Homo sapiens: one gene and its partners. The protein of the gene in region 6 interacts with the protein of the main gene of each other region in a biochemical or structural test. Each region holds a gene or a part of one and is shown on either strand. Other genes may lie near its edges. The genes, in order: PPP1R9A, TJP1, PREX2, RGS12, MAST4, CYSLTR2 and MAST3.

Region 1 (3,500 bases), on a different chromosome or scaffold from region 6:
TCTACAAAAAAAAAAAAAATAATAACAGGCATGGTGGCGCTTGCCTGTAGTCCTAGCTGCATGGGAGGCTGAGGCAGGAGAATTACTTGTGCCCCAGAGGTCAGGGCTGCAGTGAGCCATGACTGCATCACTGCACTACAGCCAGGGTGACAGAGCAAGACCTTGTCTCAAAAAAAATTAATTAAATTAACAAAAAACAAGAAACTTTAAATATTTCTATTACAAATAAATACCAGTAAACATCTGAAATAATCTGCTGTCAAAAGAATCCCTTTTTAAACACTAAATGATCACTGTTCAGTTTAAAAGTATAGCTATACCTCTGGATTTTAGAAAAGGGGTTCATTCAACAAATCTTCATTATTTGATTTTACAAAGTATATTAAAATATTTGACATATTTCATTTACCTGGTTATGAAGCATAGGTCATAAAACATAAAAATTTAAAAGGAAATCCAATTTAAATGTTATACCATCGGCTGGGCACAGTGGTTCACGCCTATAATCTCAGCACTTTGGGAGGCCAACGCGGTCAGATCACTTGAGGTCAGGAGTTCGAGACTAGCCTGGCCAACATGGTAAAAACCCTGTCTCTACTAAAAATATAAAAATTAGTCTGGAATAGTTGTGCATGCCTGTTGTCCCAGCTACTCAGAGGGCTGAGGCCTGAGAATCTCTTGAACCCAGGAGGTGGAGGTTTCAGTGAGCTGAGATCGTGCCACTGCACTCCAACCTGGGTGACAGAGCAAAGCTCCCTCTCAAAAAACAAAAAACAAAAAACAAACAAAAAAAAAGTTGTACCATCAAAGTTATCCAAGAAAAGCAAGTTAAATCATATGACCATTCTTATACTAAGTTTATTAATTTACACTTGCAAAAGAATGAAAGAAATGAAATTTCTGATTCCATTAAAAACTTCTTCCTCCCAACTTTTTATAACTAAAAACTTAAACCACACAAAGAGCCTAGGATGTGACTTTTTAATGACCCAAATGCCTTGAGTTAAGGATAATAATCCACTTTGGGATCCAGAAACAGAGTATTCATGCACTTTACAAGATTATACCTTATTTCATCTTCAGAGAATATTATTCCACCCAACCAGATATAGCAGCCCATCTGGAAAGGAAATTTATTACATGTTGCTTCCCTAACATGCTATGGCCAGCCACTTTCAGAAGCCAGAAGATTGTACTTCAAATTCATATTCCAAAGAGTGATCTCTTGATCAGCGGCATCGGCACCACTTGAGAGCTTGTTAGAAATGTAAAATCTAAGGTTCCCCTCCAGACATACTGTTAACGTGGTTTTCCTGTATTATTTCAGAATATGAAATTCTATTATAGAGGTAAACAAAACTAATGGGATGGATGAAACACTTAAGAAGTGATAATCATAGATGGTAAATAAACTAACAACTTATGAGACAGAGGCAACACTCAGGCTGGGCCAAGTATTGATAATGAGAATGCAAGCTGGTGAAATGAAGGCAGTCAGCAGATGCGTAATAAATAGGTAAGCTGGGAGTAAGACATGACAACAATAAAATAAATAGAAATTATGATAAAATGAATGAGATTTACTTATAGACAAAAAGCAGTGGAAATACCAAGTCACCATTATGCCTGGACTGATAGCTACATTACTTCCATATCAGTCATCTACTGAAGACACCAAGGATGGTCCCATGGCTCATCAGCAGGCAAACTAGCAAAGCTACGGCTGTACCTAAGTGTATTTGTCACATCTCTTCAACAGAACAAGTGTGTATCATCGACCCAGGAAATCATTAGTCTATGGAGTCTTGGCTCAAACATCAGCTCTGGTCCTCATAACCACATCATTAATGGGGAAGGGTTATGTGAAAGAAAGATGGGACATAGGAACATTGTTTATCCAGGACAGGTAGCGTGGTCCTTCCAACCTGGTTTGAACCTGAAGTGTGTTAACTTACTCCATAGCTTTCCTCTTGCTTCTGGATTTGTGTTTAACTGGTTTGGTAAATCATGTGATTCAAGCATTTTAATTTGTTTTCTGAGTCTTCTATTCCATAACCTCTGAGATAGCTTGCCTGCTGGTGTACTTGTAGCTCAACCATTGTATCAAGGTAATTTCCCATAGAATACCTACTGAATCAGAATCTTGATGCTAACAAGATCTCCCAAGTGATTCATATGCATATTAAAGTTTAAGAAGCACTGACAAAACTGTTATAAAGGAAGCCTCCGCAAAGACAAAAAGTTGGATCTCAACAGAACTATTCCCTGAAAACCATCCTGAACAAAAAAACTTCATATATCCATGAATGCCCTAACTATGACTCGGAGCCCCCAAAAAGGGAGAGAATACAAGAAGATCCATTTTCAACAACTATCATGTAAGGTTTGAAGAAGCTCTGGTGCCCTTGCTGATTATTTGAATTCTAATCCTGTAAAGCTCCATATGATTTGAGAAAACACAAAATATAGCACAATGTACCTCAATATTAACTCTGCAATATCCTTCTTACTGTGAGTTAGAAAAATCTTTTTCAGATATGCTGTTTCAAGAATAACAATCCATTGTAACACAATAGTATTTGAGGGGAAAAAAAAATACCAATCCAAAGGACATAAGAAACAGAGAAAGGTTGTGACTTCCTTAATGAGGCTGCAGCAACCTTAGAAAGATCATCAAAGCACAGAGTTGGGAACAGCCTGAGAGCTTCCTTAATGGGCTGTACACGTCCCACCGACCAGCAGCTCCTTACTTCATCAGCTCCTCATTTTATGTATTTGTTGTATTTGTTATATTTGCATTGTCCCTGACACATATTAGGGGCTCCATAAATGTTCTGAATTAGTAGAAAAAAATGACATGTCACCCTCTCTTGTTTTGATTCATCTAAGACAAATTTACTTTAATTCAATCCTTTCATTTTGAAAAATTCCTGAAAATGAAGGCATAATTCCATCTCGAATTAGCATGGTCCATAACATTCTCCCATGCCATATCTCAAAGTTGGATTTTAATTTGCTATTATTAATCCCATTCTAATATTTCATGACCCTATGAAACATAACAATCTATCTAATAAGAAATAACTGTCTGTGAAAGATAGGAAAGTCATACTAACTGATGGCTGGCAATACAGTCTGACCATTTTTAAAAATCAAGGTATATGTACAAGTACAAGGTATATGCTACACAGGAAAGATCAACTATTATTCTGATGTTTTTCTAAGTCCAGATTTAAGACATCTTATGGAAATATCTATGTAAAACATCTATAAAAAGAACTGAAGTAGTCACTGAGGACAATATTACACATACAAAGATGATAAATAAGATCTATAACAAAAAACTAAAGGTGCTAGGAATTTTTAACCTAGTACAGAATAAAGTGACAGCCAGGAAAAGAATGTAAAAGTTCTAAAAATCATTTATTTAAAGAATACATTCCCTGTTGCTTCTTTAAGAGGAAGTATGTTTAAGCTTCAAAGGAAAAGACTGAGGTTAG
Region 2 (3,500 bases), on a different chromosome or scaffold from region 6:
GGGCTGTAACGCAGTATATGTAGTACTGCTTCCCGTTTGATTTGAAGGAAAAAAAGTACAGTAGTTCCACTCCCTTTTTCCCCTCCAATCCTGGAAACAAGGTCTGGCTCTGACTTTTACTTGCTCTTTAATCTCTTTTCTGTTTAGAGACCAAATGTAAACTCTGTACAGTTCTAAGAATAAAACTGTGTATAAATATGATAGATCACCATGCTGCTAAGGAAAATGTCTTTAAAAATAATAGTTTTGGTGGAAAATTTGAAGACGTAATCCTGTTACTTGACATACCCCTGATATGATAAAAATTCACCTTACTGAAAGACCATGAGTCCAGCTGTAAATTCATGTGTAGTGCCACCCATCTGTGACTGCTCAGTCATTGCTCATTTCAGGCCTGCCTGAAAGCATTCACGTGCTCAGCATTGTGTATGACTGAGCATTATAGTAGCTGAAGACAAGCTAGTGGAATGAGCCAGTCATTTCTAATTAGCAAAGTTTTGATATGTTAAATAAAAAGATAGTTTATGTCTAGAATGATCCTCCTGGAATATTTGACTGGAACTTGCTTTGCACCTCTGAATTTTGAAAGCAAATCTTGAAAAACCTTTTTACTTTAACAACTTTTAGTCTTGTAGAAAGAAATAGACATTAGGATAGTTTACAGATTTTAAAGTTAATCCTATAAAATTGGTGTGTTGCAGTATTTCTTGCATAAGCCAGCAATAAAAATAAGACTTTTGCTCTCTCTGACCTAGAGTGCATCTTTATTTATTTATTGCAGAGAAGAGTGGCTTCAGGTTGCTCCTTTATGGGCTAGCCAGGTGCTTTATTTCCATTCCTCTTAAACAGATAAATTCTTAATAATGAGCAGTATGTGGGGAATACGTGGGTAGGGAGTTTTATCTTATATCCTAAGCATGGATGAAAATAAATGGACTCTGAATGATTGCCTTTACCACAAGAACACAGCTTTAGATCATGAGAACACCAATGTTACCAAACTTTGTACTGTAAAACACCATTTGAAATGTGATAACAAAACCCTGTCATATATGTAGTGCTCAATACTGAATCTCAGGTGGCCCTCACTTTGGGATAGATCAAGAGATAAGGTTTTATTAGTTTGTGTTGCGGATATATTTCAGTTGATATACTGAAAATACTGGGAAGTGAGTTAACTGGTGAATGATCTCAATTCTAGTTTATCATGTCCGGAAAGGAGGTAAAACAGAAGCTGATATTACTTTCTGTGGATTCTAATTAGGAACATAAGATTAGCGTATACCTGGTTTAATTAATTTTTTTTGACTTACCGAAATATTTTTTCCTTTTTAAAAAAATGTAAATTCCCAAAGACTGAAAAGTTCATTTTTCTTCTTGGTTATCTTAGGAATTTTCACGCTTTTGGAATTGTCATTATCTTGGAGATTGTACAACAGTTTCTGGTAACTGAATATCACCAGTTAAACTTAATATAAGATTAGCTCACTTAATTTAGTATGTAATTTTAAAATTCAGGAGGATACCAGTAATGACTAATTCTTTTTGTTAGCTTAACACATATTAAATGAGTACATTTTGTTTGGGATCCCGATCCTAGAAATTTACAGTTTTCAACTGCTATACGCTGTAATGATCACTTTGTGAATTGTGTAACTCATTGTTGAAGAAACAAAGGATTTGCATTGTTTACTCTTAAAAATACGAGCAAACTTATGGTCATCCTGTAATAACAGAGCATTCTTGTGTGCTTTCTTCGTTGGAGGAGGTGACAAAGTCATTTTCTAAACCTGGGCTTGCTGTTTAGCAGAGTTTCTGTATTTTTCCTTGTTAATGTTTTTAAATGTTTGAATTGAATCTGGATACATTGATGTAAGTGTTTTCTGCATATGTTTGGTATCAATATCTCAATAGGAGGGAGACATTAAGAATTATAAAGTAATTGGCTTATATGCTTAACAGCTCCTTGAATATACTGACAAGGCAAATGAACACTATACTAGCTGTTACTGTTACATTTAGGGTTCAAGAAGCTGTGAAATATGTAACAATTTGGATTCCTAAAGCGGAATTTTACATTCAGCAGATATTTGTTGGTTACCTCGTGTGTACCAATCACTGTTGTAGGTGCTGGAGATGCAGCAGTGAACACATCTCTGTACTGATAGGGCATTTTAATGGTGCGGGTAGAGAGCAGCAAATAAAATTCTGTCCATAATGATAAGTGCTAGAATCCCTAACATGCCTTTTCTGGGTCATATCCTCCCTTCTTCAAAGATTGCATGTATCTTGTCTTCTAGGTTTCTCATTTTCTAGTTTTTCTTTATAGTTACCACCTAATTATGCATTCTGAAAGCACTAGTTTTGACTCTCTGAACTTTGCGCATACAGAATCTTCTAGTGTGAATTCTGTTGTATATGGCTTCTTTTGCTCAGCATTATGTTTGTAAGATTATGTTGTGGAGAACTGTAGCTCATTAGTTTTCATTCAGTTCTTGTACTTCATGGTATTCCATTGTATGAGGACTTTATTGGTTTCGGGAGAAAATAGTTTCAGTTAGACTTCTGTGGCTTTTTGGAGAAAAATATTGTATATGTCTGTCTGAGGGGCAAGAATTAGATATGCATTATGAGGCAGTCATTGGAGTACCAACAGCTGAGCAAAAGGTAGTAAGCTTCTTTTGGTGTTCCTATGATTATCTTGAAAAATCAAGTTGGTCTTAGTTTGGAGGATATTTTATGACTAAGATGTTTGTCATACTAAAGTATGTTTTAGTAGTAAGTATTGAAGTATGTTTTAGTAGTAAGATATCCACTTACCTGACTGATCAGACCACCAAAAGCCACAATCAGGGGAAATACATGAATCTGGCAAAAATGAGTCTGCCTTTCAAAATATAATTGTGGAAGTTTTTCCTGGTAATGTCATATAAAGGTACTAAGGAAGGTTTATTTACTGATTTTTTTTTTCTAACAGTGGCAGTTATTGGAGTATTAATACTTACTGGAGTGTTAATACAGAAGTACACTATTTTGATGCTGTATCACCTATAAAAATCAAGTCAGTAGCCATGGCAAGTAGGCTTACATTTTAGTTATAAGTGTGAGAAATATGTGTCAAAACAAACAGTAGCCCCTTATATTGCATGCTGACTCTGTGACAGATACTGAGCTAAGTGTTTTATGTGCATTATCCCATTTAATCTTCACAATTCTGTTAGATACTACGATTATCTCTGTTTTTACAGGTGAAGGATCTGAGGTTAAATTTACTTGCCATAGGTAATCATACATCTACTTACATGTTCTATAAGTCATACATTCACATCCTTTTATGTTCGTGTGTTGTAAGAGAGCACCAGGGAGAAGAGTATGGGATGGTGTTAGGTAAGTCTTAGACCAGAAAAGCAGCATGAATCATGAAAGCCAGAAGAGAGGGCACTGCTCCATCAGAGCACAAGCCAGTTTGTCTAAAGGAAGCAGCTCTTGCTCAGCCCCAG
Region 3 (3,500 bases), on a different chromosome or scaffold from region 6:
GAACAAAAGCCCCACAAATGCCCGATTGTACCTGGCTGAAAAGATGCTCAAGGCAACTATGTATCTTGTCCTGTTTATCATGAGATATGCGAACACTTAAGGGAAGTTCATCACCTAGATGTCAAAACAAAAACAAAACCAAAAACCAAAATCACTCATCTTATGTTTAACGTACCAAAATATTGTAATATTCAATAAAATGTAAAAATTAAACACAAGCTGTTATTCCATGCACAGTTCTCATGTTCAGAGAAAGAGTTCCAAAAGATTTCATAGCTCCTGGGATGTTACTATTTCTTCTGAAGGCGGAGTGCCTCCCAGAAAAGATACTTGTTAAAGACTCTTTCAAATGATGTTCCTCCAGTGGTTGAAGAGTTGACATAAACTGCATAATCAAAAATTAAGATTTTCCCTAATTGGAATGAAAGGTCTTTGTTCTTAACACACACAAGATAATATATTTATAAGATAATTATATCAATCTGTTTCTCTCATTACCCTCAATCCTCAACATCCACATATAAAGCTAGCTCAGGTGAACCTGCTGTCTTAAATGCTTCAAACTCCACACCTGCCCATCCCCATCAACCATGCCTAATACTTCCAGTATATTTCCTGTGTACCTATAATCCTTCATAGAACCATACAGAGATAATGGAGCATATCTGAAGATTACAATTAGTTTGCTTATTTCATTGCTTTTTAACTCACTCCCTTTAAAATGGGATTGGGAAATAGACTATCAAGCTCATAAAACTGAAATGCAGTATGTGTGGCCACAGAGAGTGACTGATAAAAGGTAAAAATAAAAATTCATATGGATCTACGAAATTAAAACCTTAAAGTTATCTCCTATAGGACTAATATCAAAAAGCCCACAGGCCTTCACCAACGAACACACCTGAGTCCATTTCATCACTGTGGAAATACGAGCTGCACTGGCTGCTGCAGATGCTGGTGAAGGAGGCGATGGAATTCCTATTGCTGTTGCAGTCACTGAAAACAACAGGTTTCATGTTACTGTAAGAGTGCATCTGCCCAGGTGTCCCTGCAATTTCTTATGACATAAACTTATATCAGTTATATTTATTAGTATGTTTTAGAGAAAACTATGAGAAAGATAAACTTGTTCAACTCAGTCTATCTTACTTTTTAAAGACGGCATATTTTCTGTCTTTTTTTTTTTTTTTGGAGACGGAGTTTCGCTCTGTCTCCCAGACTGGAGTGCAGTGGTGCGATCTCGGCTCACTGCAAGCTCCGCCTGCAGGGTTCACGCCATTCTCCTGCCTCAGCCTCCCGAGTAGCTGGGACTACAGGCGCCCGCCACCACACCAGGCTAATTTTTTGTATTTTTAGTAGAGACAGGGTTTCACCATGTTAGCCAGGATGGTCTCCATCTCCTGACCTTGTGATCCGCCCACCTCGGCCTCCCAAAGTGCTGGGATTACAGGCGTGAGCCACCACGCCCGGCCAAAGATGGCATATTTTTGATTCAATTATATTTCAAATTTTCTTGTATCATATAATCTAATCCTAAATGATTTTTTAAGGGCAGTTAGCTATAAAACTAGGAGTCATGCCAAACTTAAAATTCTTTATAATCTGTTTCATGATACATGCCAGTAATTAGATAACTTGCTAATAGAGACAAAATACTGTTCTGTGATTTCTGTCCCTTTCTGGTGGCTTAAATCATAACTTATTGGTTACACTCTGAGCTTCCTTAGGGAGGACAGGAAACTTGTCTGTCTCCACCTCAGAGCTTTTAGCACAGGGAAGTGCTTGATAATGATGAATGCCCAAGGAAAGAAAGGTTCAATATGTTTGTGTGTGAACAGGGACAAATTTCAGAAATAGTGCAGGAGATAAAGTATTTTCTTTCCTCTCAGAATAAGTAAAAAGGACGTCCTTAACTTTAAATTTACATTTAAAATTTCTATCTTAGCCTAGAGGGAAACTGTCAGGGTAATTTTAATTATCTGATAACTAGAACTTGAGGTAAGAAAGTATTTTTAGACATGTAATTTCCCACTGGGAAAAACTCTACAGATTCCTATTAAAGAGCAGGTTGGGATGCTTAGAAGTGAAAAGTAAATGAAGTGATAAAAGTGGTTAATCTGTCTGATCTATTATTAAATCTCTAGAATAATTCTTATGTGTTCATTAAGATCCTTTTTGGAAACATAGAAATTGGAATAGTAGAGTGGTTAAGAGACAAACTGGGAAGCCAGACCACCTGGTCTCATAGGTAAATGATATCAGCCCTCTGGGCTTCAGCTTCCTGATATGTAAAATGGAATTCCTATCAGAACCTGCCACCGAGGCTTGCGGTGAGGATTATGTAAAATCTTCCTCTTTCCCCCATGTGTTTGATAAAAGTATATTTTTAATGTTAGCTCCTAGTTTGTAGCTAGTTATACTCTGATGAGAACTTTGATTACTATTTAATCAATATCTTTTCATTGCAAAACACTGCATAATAAATGAGTGAAGAAGATAGTTTCTGCTTTCAATTAATATAAATGAAAAATATGTTGAAGTTGTATACACAGCTTATGTGGCTGGTTATGACAGTCCTCAGTGAGGTATCAGGTGATACATGGATTCAAGGAACAAAAAGTAGTTTGAATTAAGGAAGTTCACGTGAGGAGACATCATTTGGAAGTCTAGTAGGAAGACAATAACAGAGTTTGGAGGGAAAGTATTTTGGGTTGAACTAGGTCTCCCAATAAAATTCATATGTTTGAAAAGTGATCCCTAGTACCTCAGAATGTGACTTTATTTGGAGATAGGGTCTTTACAAAGGTAATCAAGTTAAAATGAGGTCATTAGGGCGTGACCTTAAGCCACCCTATAAAATGTCCTCATAAGAAGGGAAACTTTGGACACAAGACACATATGGAGGGAAGATGACGTGCAGAGACACAGGGAGAAGATGGCCGTTTACGCGTCAAGGAGCCACGCCTGGCACGGATCCTTCCTCCACAGCCTTCAGAAGGAGCCAACACAGCCCACACCTTGGTTTCAGATTTTTGGCCTCCAGAACTGTGTGATAATAAATTTCTGTTTTTTAAGCTGCCCAGTTTGTAGTAATCTGTTACAGCAGCCCTACAAAACTAATACAGAAGGTATCCAAGAGAGTAAAAACCACAAGCCTTGTCTCCGAGGTAGGCAAGGAACATTAGTCCAATTAGGTTGGAACATAGACAATGAAAAGAAAAGAGAGAAAAAAGAGCCAAAAGAACTCCTATTCACTACCCAATAAACCAGTGACAGAAACAGATAGTTGAAAACAATGTTAATCCTGTATAGGCACAATTTTCTTACCAGCTATCTGTGTTACACAATCCATATACAGAACAACTCTCCCAAATTAGGCTCACACAACCAGCGAAAAAATGCTTTTTCCAAGCTACTCATATTAGAAAAGGGAAGGATTTGAAATATTACATTGTCCCACTATGCTTTGTCTGAGGTCGGTAGTAACAGGTGATTATTGT
Region 4 (2,197 bases), on a different chromosome or scaffold from region 6:
GGAGCTCACCAACCACCCTGTACCGAGGGTACTTGGCTTTAGGGGTTCCATCAAGGCAACCTGGGGAATGGCCCTGCCTCTTCCGACTCAACCCAGCCCCCAAGGCCCCGGCCTCCCCTGCAGCCACACCTGGTTCCCTTTCTGTAATCAGACCCTCCTTAGCCCCAGGGCCTTGGCACAGGCCCAGGGCTCTTTCTAGACTTCCTCTGCCGTCCAGTTGCAGTTTACATGGTCCCTCCCCAGAAAGGCCCTCAGACCACCCTGCTAAACAAGGCTGGGGCAGGGTCCCCACGTGACGGCGAGAGCCAGTCTCTGCCATCTGGTCCTGGCCCTCAGGCCCCAGGAGCCAAGCTTCCCTCTCCTCAAAGCCCCCTTGACCTTACCCTGGGGCACTTCTCCTCCTCAGGCCCCTCTGTTTCCTGCATGACCTCCTGGGGATGTGCTCGGAGTCCCCGAGAACGAGGAGTCTGTGTCCCCAGCACCCAGCACCAGGCCGACGCTTGGGTCCTCAGAAATGCTTTATTGGGCAGCAGGAGGCCAGGGCCAGGGAGCCCCATGGCCAGCATGGCGAATGTCCGGGGCCAGTGCCTCCAGCGAGGTCACCCCCTGCCCTCCTGGCTGGGCTCCTGAGGGTGTGGTGGCCAGGGTGGCCCCCCTGAGGCCCACAGAATCCACCTGGGCTGCCCCACCCCGACATGTCCACAGGAGAGTTGGCCAGGCCAGGGCAGCTCAGACGAAGGTGGCGTGGTGAGCGCTGGTCTTGGGCTTAGCAGGCTCACCCGGGACGGGGCCCAAGCCAGGGAGGTCTGATGTAGGAGGCCCACCACTGGCCTGCGACCTCCCAGGGCCAGCCTGTGCCCCCGCTATGCCACCATCCCGCCCGGGCGCCGAGCCAGTTACAAGATCCACATCGATGATTCTGTTGACTGGGAGGTCTCGGCTGCCATGGGTCCCACTTCCTGTCACAAGGAGAAGAGAAGCTGTCACTTGCCTGGCCCGGCCCTGGGCCCCCGGAACCCACCCCCTACCCCGAAGGCCCCTGCACAGACAGCATGGTAGGGGTCCCTGAAATATCCCAAACACATCCCAGAGGCAGCTGGCGTCCCGCTGTGGGCCTCCAGGCTGGGGCAGGTACGCCCAGGGGAGGTGCAGTGTTCCCAGAGCCCTCCACATAACACCTGCCACCAAGTGGGGGAGCCGACCCACTCAGAAACCCTACCACCCTGCTTCCCCACTGCAGCTCAGGAACAGAGCTGGGCCCCCGGCAGAGCCCCCGCCCCAACTGCCCCCCTAATTCCTCCTGGGGGCGTCCTCAGGGGCCCCCCCAGGCCCAGGGCCCATCCTCAAGGGCCACCCCCAGGGGGCTGAGCACTAGGGTTCAGTTCCAGATAGGCTGGACCCTCTTGGCCTGGTGGAACGGGCCCTGAGCCCTGTGTCTGCTGCCCCATCCCACCCTGCCAGGCTGGCCACCTGCTCGCCCACCTGCCTCGCTGCCTCAGCACCGTCTTCACCGTACACACCCTGCTCTGGGCCTCCCGGTCGTGTCCCCTCCCCCTCCATCCCTGGCCCCCCTACTGAGGCCCCTCTTTCCGGCTGGTCAGTGACTCTTGCCCCACTTCTGGCTCCAATGCCCACTCCAGCCCCAGGAGATCCCGGCTGCCTGAACCGGCCTTGGAAGCTTCTAGACCCAACATGGGCAGGCCATCTCCTTGCCAGCACCCCCGGGAGGCCTCCCTACCCAGGGCGTCACTGCCCTGCCACATCTGGTGACCTCCACGTGGACCCCTGGAAGACACAGTTGTGTCTATGCCAGGGTGGAGTCCCCAGGGGCCAACGAAGGCTGGGGCCAAGGAAAGTGAACGGTGCACGCAGAATGGCTGGGTTCATGTGCCGCCCGGAGCTCCATGGCAGGACCCCAGGGCCTGGGAAGGGGCAGTGAAGCCCCCGTGCTGGGAGAGCCCAGCCCTTCCCGCCCACTGACCCCACCCCCCCATCTGTACGGTGGGGGTGACGTTGCCGACCCGCCCAGTGACCCCACCCCCCCATCTGTGCGGTGGGGGTGACGTTGCCGACCCAGAGGAGCAGGCTTCGGGGGCAGGTTCCTGCGTACCTAGCGTGTCTCCTAGGCAGGGGTCCAGGAGCTCCCTTCCTCAGTGAGCCTGGGGCTGAGGCCCTGAGACAGTCATGTCCATGCCAG
Region 5 (3,500 bases), on a different chromosome or scaffold from region 6:
TCAACCTGCTTTCTTTCAGCTGGAACAAGCTTCATGTTTTTTGGGGACCTCACATGACTTTACCTCCCCTCCCCTCTGCTGTTTAGACCAGGAGACTCACTCACCAGATGGGAAGTCAGGGGTGGAGCGGTAGCTTGGTGTTGGAGACCGGGGAGACAAGCTATGAGTGGGGGAACCTGGGAGGCTCTCACCCGATGACAGGGATCTGTTCAAGCAGGAGAAACTTCGGCTGGTGTGGAGTAAAGGAGAAGGCTGCTTGGCTAGCTTTTTGAAAAGAGATCTCCTCCTACAGAAAAACAGGAAAAAATTGTTCAGTCTTCTTTCAGAACTATTGCTGCCTCCCCAAAATACCATTGTGCTCAGCTCAATAACTCCGTGTGAGGGACAGGGATACAACAGCAGATCCTATTAAAGAGCAGAACACCACTTTCCTATTAGAAACCTTCTTATGACATGTAAAGGAAGAGTATTTAATAGTAGACAATGGAGCCTCTCTCAATTCCAAACACTTAAGAAGAGTTGGAAAAATAGGAAAAATATAAAATGCATTAAAAATACATTCATTTACTTGTTAGGTATATGAGGAGGATGCTCTTTGCTTGAAAGCTTCTGAGTACCTACCCCTAAATATGCAGACACAACTTAACTAAGAGATAATACAAAGTAAACCTCTGGAAGCAAAACCATTGTATTGGAAATCAAATTCTTTAATGGTGATAGGCTGGGCAGAGGCCAATGAAGGGCTATTTGCTGTGCTTATTCCATTGTGGGCTCTTGAATATTCCTAACAACAATGCAGGCTGTACAACGACATAGAAAAAACCGAGAAAGGTGAAGCTGAAGCGTATCGTATCAGCAGGGCAGCAGACACTGTACTGCAGCAGAAGCAAATGTGGATTTGGTACTCAATGAGCACATCTTAAGGCAAAAGCACAGCTTCTGACACCTTAGCAGGGCATCGGGCTGTGCAAAGTTCTTTTACCATATAAGCCTATATATGGTAAGATCTAACCCACTCCACATAAGCTTAAAACAAAGTTTCTGGTTGCTAGCCCTTGAAACAATTTGTTCTAAATGATTTAAAGCACAGCCAAAATATAAAGCATAATAATAAAGAAGATCTTATGTGTGTGTAATTTTAATCAGAGTAATAAATGTACTTGGGTGAAAAAGTCAAATACTTCTATAAACATACAATGAAAAACAGCAACTCCTCTACTCGAATTTTTCTCTACTCCCCAAAGAAGTCGCTTTGTATTCTTTTACCTGTTTCTTCTCCCATTTGTCTACATATTGCTAAATGTTTGTACACTGCTATTTTTTAGTTTTTCAGTTTTAGAAATTACCTGTTGATTTTCTACTATGAAAGATGATAATTAAGCTCTTATACAACCACCTTCTACCTTGCAACCAAATATATTTCCCCTTTTCTATTCTTCCCAATATAGCGAAAGCAAAATTTTTGGTTAGAAAAACGGCCGGTATTTTATCTTATATTATAAATATTGTTCACAGCTGGGCCATATGAAACATAATTCTGTTCCTTTCTTGTATAACTTTTTTTCCCCCCAGAGTTAATACATGGCTTTTCGTTTGCTTGTTTTTCTACATTTCTATCATCAAAAATCCTTTTAATATGATGTGACTCATCAGGCCCAATTGAGTAAAGAAATGCTGTGGCATTGCAAAGGAGGCACACCCAGAGAGCTGCCTGGCAAGAAACAGCCCTGCCAGAAACACATACCTCTTGCTAGTGTCTGCAAGCAGCACAAAAAGATACTGATCAGTGCTTCCCAGGCTACAAAAGTATATAAGCTAGTTCGTTTTTCAGTGAGTAAAACAAAGCCCTTTTATTTCTAGGCTTATTCGGAACCTTTAAAGGTAACAGTAATTTTAGAATATCTGGCATTTTAAAAATAGCAACTGTTTGTTTTTTGATAACGTAAAGGACATTTTAAATGTAGATTTAATGTTAAAAACCACCTGAAGATCCAGTTCCTCAATCCAACTCAACTGAAATCAAGTGAAGAGGCTTAAAAAACAGCAAAGGGCTTTTCCTGACATTCACACATGATAAAAAACAATCTGAATCCTTCCACAATGTAAATATGTAAATCCTTTTACTATGGAAGTTGATGCTATTATGAATATGGATTTTAATGTATACATATATGTGAACCATAACATAAAATTTCTCACAGAAAAATAGATCTTCTTCATATATAAGCATTTAATTAAGGGGTAACTTTTCCCCAACATAGGTATACACCAAACTTAAAAAGAATACTGATTTTACTAACCTTTCGAGACTTTCTTTCTTCTTGGATTTCTTGCTCCGCCTCACCATCCGGCTCTTATAGCTGTTTCTCCTGGCTGGTCCAGTTTTGATTGATGTGTTTTCAAATGGGGTAGTAGTGATTGACACCTTATTCCCACTCTAAAGAAAAGATGAGGTGGCATTAAAGGGAAATGCTGTGATGAAGCAAGATCAGAACAGAGATGAGAGATTCATAGACAAATACAAATAGAAAGGAACATACATATAAAAGGCCTTCTGTTTCTAAATAACCCTTCAATCAAAGAAGTCCTGCCAGAATACAAACTGGGTGGAAGGCAAAATATGAAGTTTCTTTACGAGGGTGAGTTCTGGAGTCCACAGATCTGAGTTCAAATCCAAGCACTGTGCCCTTACCAGGCTGCTACCCTCCCTACCCTCAACTTCCTGTACCAATTAACAATATAATCCTACCTATCTCCTGGGGCTCATTTGAGGATCACATGAGAGCAAGTCTGTAAAGCCTTTTGCACCCAGTGCAACACAAGGAAAGAACACTATAAATAAGATAACTACTTCTTCCACAGGTATTAAGTATTAATGTTCCCAGTGGCTGGCTGCTCTTGGTTGATTTTTCTTTTTTCTCCTTTTTGTGTTTTTCCTTTGGCCTAAAAATTGTAGAGTAACAAAACCGAATGAGACTTTTATTTTTAATTATTTTAAAAGGCTCCTTTTCTATCACCATAAAACCTATCAGTTTGCAGAGCTGGAACATTTATGCCAGCCAGTAGGAAACCTCTTTTTAACCAGGTCATACAGGGTAAGGTAATTTCTGTGAGTTTCGGTGTCCTTTCTCTCAATCCTGGGAAGGGGCTTGCTGGGCAGCCTCTAGGGATGGAACTGAGCGTGGAGTCAGCAGTCAGGCCGAGGGGGGCCCAGGGCAGGTGGGTAGTCCCTGGCATCAATTACCCTTCCTGAATTTCATAATAACCAGGGGAGAAACCTGTCCTTTCAAGGTCACAGATGGCCCCGATTACCATGAAAGTACAAGAGGTACAAGGAAAAGGATCTTTTTAAAGGCCCATGCCTGGAAGATACCTAGAGCTCAGCTCAACATGGTACCAAGTGAAGGGGAGTTGGGGGGAGTTAGGTATGGTGGCAGCAGAGGACTGAAAAGACAGGGAATGACTGTCTTAAAGATAGCATCTACCTTCCCCCTTGATTT
Region 6 (2,899 bases):
ATTCCTTTCTGTTTAGAGAACTTCCTTTAGTCATTCTTTGTTTGTTTGTTTTTTGTTTTGTTTTGTTGTTGTTTTTTTTTTTTTTGAGATGGAGTTTCGCTCTTGTTGCCCCAGCTGGAGTGCAATGGCATGATCTCGGCTCATTGCAACTTCTGCCTCCCAGGTTCAGGCAATTCTCCTGCCTCAGCCTCCCGGGTAGCAGAGGTGACAGGTGCCTGCCACTGGGCCCGCTAATTTTTGTATTTTTAGTAGAGACGGAGTTTCACCATGTTGGCCAGACTGGTCTTGAACTCCTGACCTCAGGTGATCTGCCAGCCTCAGCTTCCCAAACTGCTGGGATTACGGGCGTGAGCCACCAAACCCAGCCTAGTCATTCTTTTAAGATAGGTCTGCTGGCAGCAAAGTCTTAGTTTTCCGTCTGAAAAAGTCTTGATTTTTCTCTTTGTACTTGAAGGATATTTTTGCTGGACATAGAATACTAGTTTGGCAGGTCTTTTCTTTCAGCATTTGAGAAATGTGCCATTTCTTTCTGTCCTCCATAGTTTCTGATGAGAAATCTGCTATTCAGTAGTTTTAGGCTGCAATATCATAGTAAGGTATTCATGTCAACAGGGTCAGTAGGTCACAAGTTCTCTAAGTTTGAAGCGTCAGCTTCAACCAAACAAATTAATGGCTATTCTACATTCAAAAATCAGGAAATTTAAATTTATTATGAAATGTAATGCAGCATGTAGTAAAGACTTAACCAGTGTTTTAAAACTCAACTTTCAAAGAAAAGATAGTATTGCTCCCTGTTTCATTAAAACCTAGAGAGATGTAATCAGTAAGCAAGAAGGAAAAAGGGAAATTCACAAAGTAACTTTTTGTGTCTGTTTCTTTTTAACCCAGCATGGAGAGAAAATTTATGTCCTTGCAACCATCCATCTCCGTATCAGAAATGGAACCAAATGGCACCTTCAGCAATAACAACAGCAGGAACTGCACAATTGAAAACTTCAAGAGAGAATTTTTCCCAATTGTATATCTGATAATATTTTTCTGGGGAGTCTTGGGAAATGGGTTGTCCATATATGTTTTCCTGCAGCCTTATAAGAAGTCCACATCTGTGAACGTTTTCATGCTAAATCTGGCCATTTCAGATCTCCTGTTCATAAGCACGCTTCCCTTCAGGGCTGACTATTATCTTAGAGGCTCCAATTGGATATTTGGAGACCTGGCCTGCAGGATTATGTCTTATTCCTTGTATGTCAACATGTACAGCAGTATTTATTTCCTGACCGTGCTGAGTGTTGTGCGTTTCCTGGCAATGGTTCACCCCTTTCGGCTTCTGCATGTCACCAGCATCAGGAGTGCCTGGATCCTCTGTGGGATCATATGGATCCTTATCATGGCTTCCTCAATAATGCTCCTGGACAGTGGCTCTGAGCAGAACGGCAGTGTCACATCATGCTTAGAGCTGAATCTCTATAAAATTGCTAAGCTGCAGACCATGAACTATATTGCCTTGGTGGTGGGCTGCCTGCTGCCATTTTTCACACTCAGCATCTGTTATCTGCTGATCATTCGGGTTCTGTTAAAAGTGGAGGTCCCAGAATCGGGGCTGCGGGTTTCTCACAGGAAGGCACTGACCACCATCATCATCACCTTGATCATCTTCTTCTTGTGTTTCCTGCCCTATCACACACTGAGGACCGTCCACTTGACGACATGGAAAGTGGGTTTATGCAAAGACAGACTGCATAAAGCTTTGGTTATCACACTGGCCTTGGCAGCAGCCAATGCCTGCTTCAATCCTCTGCTCTATTACTTTGCTGGGGAGAATTTTAAGGACAGACTAAAGTCTGCACTCAGAAAAGGCCATCCACAGAAGGCAAAGACAAAGTGTGTTTTCCCTGTTAGTGTGTGGTTGAGAAAGGAAACAAGAGTATAAGGAGCTCTTAGATGAGACCTGTTCTTGTATCCTTGTGTCCATCTTCATTCACTCATAGTCTCCAAATGACTTTGTATTTACATCACTCCCAACAAATGTTGATTCTTAATATTTAGTTGACCATTACTTTTGTTAATAAGACCTACTTCAAAAATTTTATTCAGTGTATTTTCAGTTGTTGAGTCTTAATGAGGGATACAGGAGGAAAAATCCCTACTAGAGTCCTGTGGGCTGAAATATCAGACTGGGAAAAAATGCAAAGCACATTGGATCCTACTTTTCTTCAGATATTGAACCAGATCTCTGGCCCATCAGGCTTTCTAAATTCTTCAAAAGAGCCACAACTTCCCCAGCTTCTCCAGCTCCCCTGTCCTCTTCAATCCCTTGAGATATAGCCAACTAACGACGCTACTGGAAGCCCCAGAGCAGAAAAGAAGCACATCCTAAGATTCAGGGAAAGACTAACTGTGAAAAGGAAGGCTGTCCTATAACAAAGCAGCATCAAGTCCCAAGTAAGGACAGTGAGAGAAAAGGGGGAGAAGGATTGGAGCAAAAGAGAACTGGCAATAAGTAGGGGAAGGAAGAATTTCATTTTGCATTGGGAGAGAGGTTCTAACACACTGAAGGCAACCCTATTTCTACTGTTTCTCTCTTGCCAGGGTATTAGGAAGGACAGGAAAAGTAGGAGGAGGATCTGGGGCATTGCCCTAGGAAATGAAAGAATTGTGTATAGAATGGAAGGGGGATCATCAAGGACATGTATCTCAAATTTTCTTTGAGATGCAGGTTAGTTGACCTTGCTGCAGTTCTCCTTCCCATTAATTCATTGGGATGGAAGCCAAAAATAAAAGAGGTGCCTCTGAGGATTAGGGTTGAGCACTCAAGGGAAAGATGGAGTAGAGGGCAAATAGCAAAAGTTGTTGCACTCCTGAAATTCTATTAACATTTCCGCAGAAGATGAGTAGGGAG
Region 7 (3,500 bases), on a different chromosome or scaffold from region 6:
CACCACCATCACCGTGGCCATTAGGGTCTCCTTCTTCCCCTTCCAATAGTTGTGGGAATTTTTTTTTTTTTTTTTTTTTTTTTTTTTTTTTTTTTTTTGAGACAGCGTCTGGCTATGTCGCCCAGACTGGAATGCAGTGGTGCAATCTTGGCTCACTGCAACCTCCGCCTCCAGAGTAGCTGGGATTGTGGGCATGTGCCACCACACCCGGCTAATTTTTGTATTTTTTATAGAGATGAGGTTTCACCATGTTGCCCAGGCTGGTCTTGAACTCCTGGTCTCAAGTGATCCACCTGCCTTGGCCTCCCAAAGTGCTGGGATTACAGGCATGAGCCACTGCACCCAGCCAGTTGTGGGATCTTATACCACTTCCTCCACTACCCCACGTGAAACAGGGAGGGATTTGAACCCTGGTGGGGGGTCCCACTTGCACCCCATCCAGGCATTTCCTTCCAAAACTCTGACAGTCCTAGGTTCCCAGTCTGGCTCCCCCACTCCTGCACTGTGTGACCCGACAAGTGACTTAACCCCTCTGTGCCTCAGTTTTCTCATTTGGAAAATGGCCCAGTGACATAGGGTCCCTGGAGGAATCAATGAGTAGCAAGCTCAGAGCCTGGTGCTGGGGGAGACTTGGATGGATGGGAGTCAAGACAATGATCAAGACGTGAATAATAACCACCAGTTGAAAGTTGCTTCCAAAAGACAAAAAGATGTGAATATTTTGTTTGTTTGTTTGTTTTCAGATGGAGACTTGCTCTGTCGCCCAGGCTGGAGGGCAATGGTGCGATCTTGTCTCACTGCAACCTCCACCTCCTGGGTTCAAGCGATTCTTCTGCCTCAGCCTCCCAAGTAAGCTGGGATTACAGGCGCCCACCACCACGCTTGGCTGATTTTGTATTTTTAGTAGAGATAGGATTTCACCATGTTGGTCTGGCTGGTCTTGACCTCCTGACCTCAAGCAGTCCTCCCATCTCGGCCTCCCAAAACGCTGGATTACAGGCATGAGCCACTGTGCCTGGCCTGAAGATGTTTTTTTAAAGTGGCAGAGAGAGGTGAGGCAAAATCGGCAGCTCCCTGCAAAGGCTCCCGGGGAAGCTGGACCACACAGAACTCTCCTGGCACCACTCCCGGACCCTTCGGTCCCCGCACCATCTGCTTTCCACCCACAGCTCCCTCTGTGCCTGCTGTTCCCCTGGGAGTGGTTCCCACCCAGAGGAGTGGAGGTTGGGGAGGCCCCGACCCCCTGAAACTGCCCTTTAAAGGTAATATTTATGGTATACCCGTCTGCGCTTGCCCAGGCTGGGGGATGCTGCCTCCCCAACAAGCTTTAGCCCCACCTTGAGGAAATCCCATTTTGGAGAAGACATAGCACAGCAGGAGCACCCCCATACTGGAGGGATTAAGAGAGACCCGAAGCAGCTGGGTGCTGTGGCTCATGCCTGTAATCCCAGCACTTTGGGAGGCTGAGGCGGGAGGATCACTTAAGATCAAGAGTTTGAGCCAGGTGCGGTGGCTCACGCCTGTAATCCCAGCACGCTGGGAGGCCAAGGTGGGCGGATCACAAGGTCAGGAGTTCAAGATCAGCCTGGCCAACATAGTGAAACCCCGTCTCTACTTAAAATACAAAAATTAGCTGGATGTGGTGGCAGGCGCCTGTAGTCCCAGCTACTCGGTAGGCCGAGGCAGGAGAATCCCTTGAACCCCGGAGGCGGAGGTTGCAGTGAGCCAAGACCACACCATTGTACTCCAGCCTGGGTGACAGAATGAGACTCCGTCTCAAAAAAAAAAAAAAAAAAGGTGGCCGGGCGCAGTGGCTCATGCCTGTAATCCCAGGACTTTGGGAGGCTGAGGCAGGCAGATCACCTGAGGTCAGGAGTTCGAGACCAGCCTGACCAACATGGAGAAACCCCGTCTCTACTAAAAATACAAAATTAGCAGGATGTGGTGGCGCATGCCTGTAATCCCAGCTACCTGGGAGGCTGAGGCAGGAGAATCGCTTGAACTCGGGGGCAGAGGTTGCGGTGAGCCGAGATCGTGCCATTGCACTCCAGCCTGGGCAAGAAGAGCGAAAGAGTGAAACTCCGTTTCAAAAAAAAAAGGCCAGGCGCAGTGGCTAACACCTGTAATCTCAGCACTTTGAGAGGCCGAGGTGGGAGGATCACGAAGTCAGCAGATGGAGACCATCCTGGCTAACACGGTGAAAGCCCGTCTCTGCTAAAAATACAAAAAATTAGCCGGGTGTGGTGGCAGGAGCCTGTAGTCCCAGCTACTCGGGAGGCTGAGGCAGGAGAATGGCATGAACCTGGGAGGTGGAATGAGCGGAGATCACGCCACTGCACTCCAGCCTGGGCGACAGAGCAAGACTCCGTCTCAAAAAAAAAAAAAAAAAAAAAAAGAGTTTGAGGCCATTCTGGCCAACATGGTGAAACACCATCTCTACTAAAAAATATAAAAATTATATTAGTCGGGTGTGGTGGCGCTCGCCTGTAATCCAGCTACTCAGGAGGCTGAGGCTGTGAGAATCGCTTGTATCCAGGTGACGGAGCCTGCAGTGAGCCAAGATGGCGCCACTGCACTCCAGCCTGGGCCACCGCACTCCAGCCTGGGCGACAGGGCAAGATCCTGTCTAAAAAAAGAGAGACTCAAAGGGAGAAGAGGGGTTGGAGGCACACAGAGAGGAGAGCTAAGGGGCTTCCTGGAGTAGGGGGTGTCAAACAAAGCCTGCAGGCACATGGAAAACACCAGTCCATGCCCAGCAAACAGCACGTGCAAAGGGAGGTGAGACTCAGCCTGCTGGGCACCAAGCCCGGTTGGAAGTTCGATGCCCCTGGAATTAAATGGGAGAGAAGTCAGCATGGACCACATGGCACCAGCCCCAGGGCTTCCAGGAGGAGGAGGAGGAGGAGGAGAAGGAGAAGGAGGAGGAGGAGGAGGAGGAGGAAAATAAGTGGAAGCTGTCCATGAGAAAGCAGGATCACCTTGGAGGGCTGAACCTAGAGGAGCCACCCCAGTAGCGGCAGAGACAAAAGTCCAGATACAGGCTCTAGCCCTTCTCTGCCGGGGGATGCTCTGTTTGTGGGACCTGGTGTTTTGAAATTCGGTCATGTGTAAAGCAAAGGTCCAAGTAGGAGATGATAAATGTAATAAGATAATAGTAGTAGTAGTAATAACAGCTCACGTTACCCGGTGCCTGCACACGTTATGCGTGAGGCTGAGTTTAACCCAAATTGGGAAGGTCTCCACCTCCTCCCTGGACCCAGGGCTGTCGCAAACTGGCCGCCCGCGGGCCAGGCCGGATCCTTTTTCAGACCTTTCCTGCACACAGCCAACAGCACGCCTCACATTGTCACCACCGGAGAGGACGCCCTGGGCTATGCGTCTGGATTGGCCGGTCAGCACCCGTTTGTGAATGGACTCTTTGGCCTTTGGCCTCCAGGAAATCTGATTGGCTCGCATCAGCGATCTACCCCCTGATTGGCTGGGGTGCTCCTGGACCATTA

Evidence for each region.
Region 1: the proteins of CYSLTR2 (region 6) and PPP1R9A interact in a test that uses a peptide from one of them, tested with the Homo sapiens proteins (one large-scale study listed by IntAct).
Region 2: the proteins of CYSLTR2 (region 6) and TJP1 interact in a test that uses a peptide from one of them, tested with the Homo sapiens proteins (one large-scale study listed by IntAct).
Region 3: the proteins of CYSLTR2 (region 6) and PREX2 interact in a test that uses a peptide from one of them, tested with the Homo sapiens proteins (one large-scale study listed by IntAct).
Region 4: the proteins of CYSLTR2 (region 6) and RGS12 interact in a test that uses a peptide from one of them, tested with the Homo sapiens proteins (one large-scale study listed by IntAct).
Region 5: the proteins of CYSLTR2 (region 6) and MAST4 interact in a test that uses a peptide from one of them, tested with the Homo sapiens proteins (one large-scale study listed by IntAct).
Region 7: the proteins of CYSLTR2 (region 6) and MAST3 interact in a test that uses a peptide from one of them, tested with the Homo sapiens proteins (one large-scale study listed by IntAct).

The regions. Positions count from the first base shown.
Region 1 is NC_000007.14:94,914,094-94,917,593, reverse strand, and holds part of PPP1R9A (neurabin-1), read right to left. Parts: intron 1-3,500. UniProt on the Homo sapiens protein: Binds to actin filaments (F-actin) and shows cross-linking activity. Binds along the sides of the F-actin. May be involved in neurite formation. Inhibits protein phosphatase 1-alpha activity.
Region 2 is NC_000015.10:29,812,469-29,815,968, reverse strand, and holds part of TJP1 (tight junction protein 1), read left to right. Parts: intron 1-3,500. UniProt on the Homo sapiens protein: TJP1, TJP2, and TJP3 are closely related scaffolding proteins that link tight junction (TJ) transmembrane proteins such as claudins, junctional adhesion molecules, and occludin to the actin cytoskeleton.
Region 3 is NC_000008.11:68,116,046-68,119,545, reverse strand, and holds part of PREX2 (phosphatidylinositol 3,4,5-trisphosphate-dependent Rac exchanger 2 protein), read right to left. Parts: intron 997-3,500; coding exon 902-996; intron 115-901; coding exon 32-114; intron 1-31. UniProt on the Homo sapiens protein: Functions as a RAC1 guanine nucleotide exchange factor (GEF), activating Rac proteins by exchanging bound GDP for free GTP.
Region 4 is NC_000004.12:3,438,217-3,440,413, reverse strand, and holds the end of RGS12 (regulator of G-protein signaling 12), read right to left. Parts: intron 960-2,197; coding exon 730-959; 3' UTR 501-729; downstream 1-500. UniProt on the Homo sapiens protein: Regulates G protein-coupled receptor signaling cascades. Inhibits signal transduction by increasing the GTPase activity of G protein alpha subunits, thereby driving them into their inactive GDP-bound form.
Region 5 is NC_000005.10:67,159,393-67,162,892, reverse strand, and holds part of MAST4 (microtubule-associated serine/threonine-protein kinase 4), read right to left. Parts: intron 2,438-3,500; coding exon 2,301-2,437; intron 287-2,300; coding exon 105-286; intron 1-104.
Region 6 is NC_000013.11:48,705,929-48,708,827, forward strand, and holds part of CYSLTR2 (cysteinyl leukotriene receptor 2), read left to right. Parts: intron 1-888; 5' UTR 889-889; coding exon 890-1,930; 3' UTR 1,931-2,899. UniProt on the Homo sapiens protein: Receptor for cysteinyl leukotrienes. The response is mediated via a G-protein that activates a phosphatidylinositol-calcium second messenger system.
Region 7 is NC_000019.10:18,100,778-18,104,277, reverse strand, and holds part of MAST3 (microtubule-associated serine/threonine-protein kinase 3), read right to left. Parts: intron 1-3,500.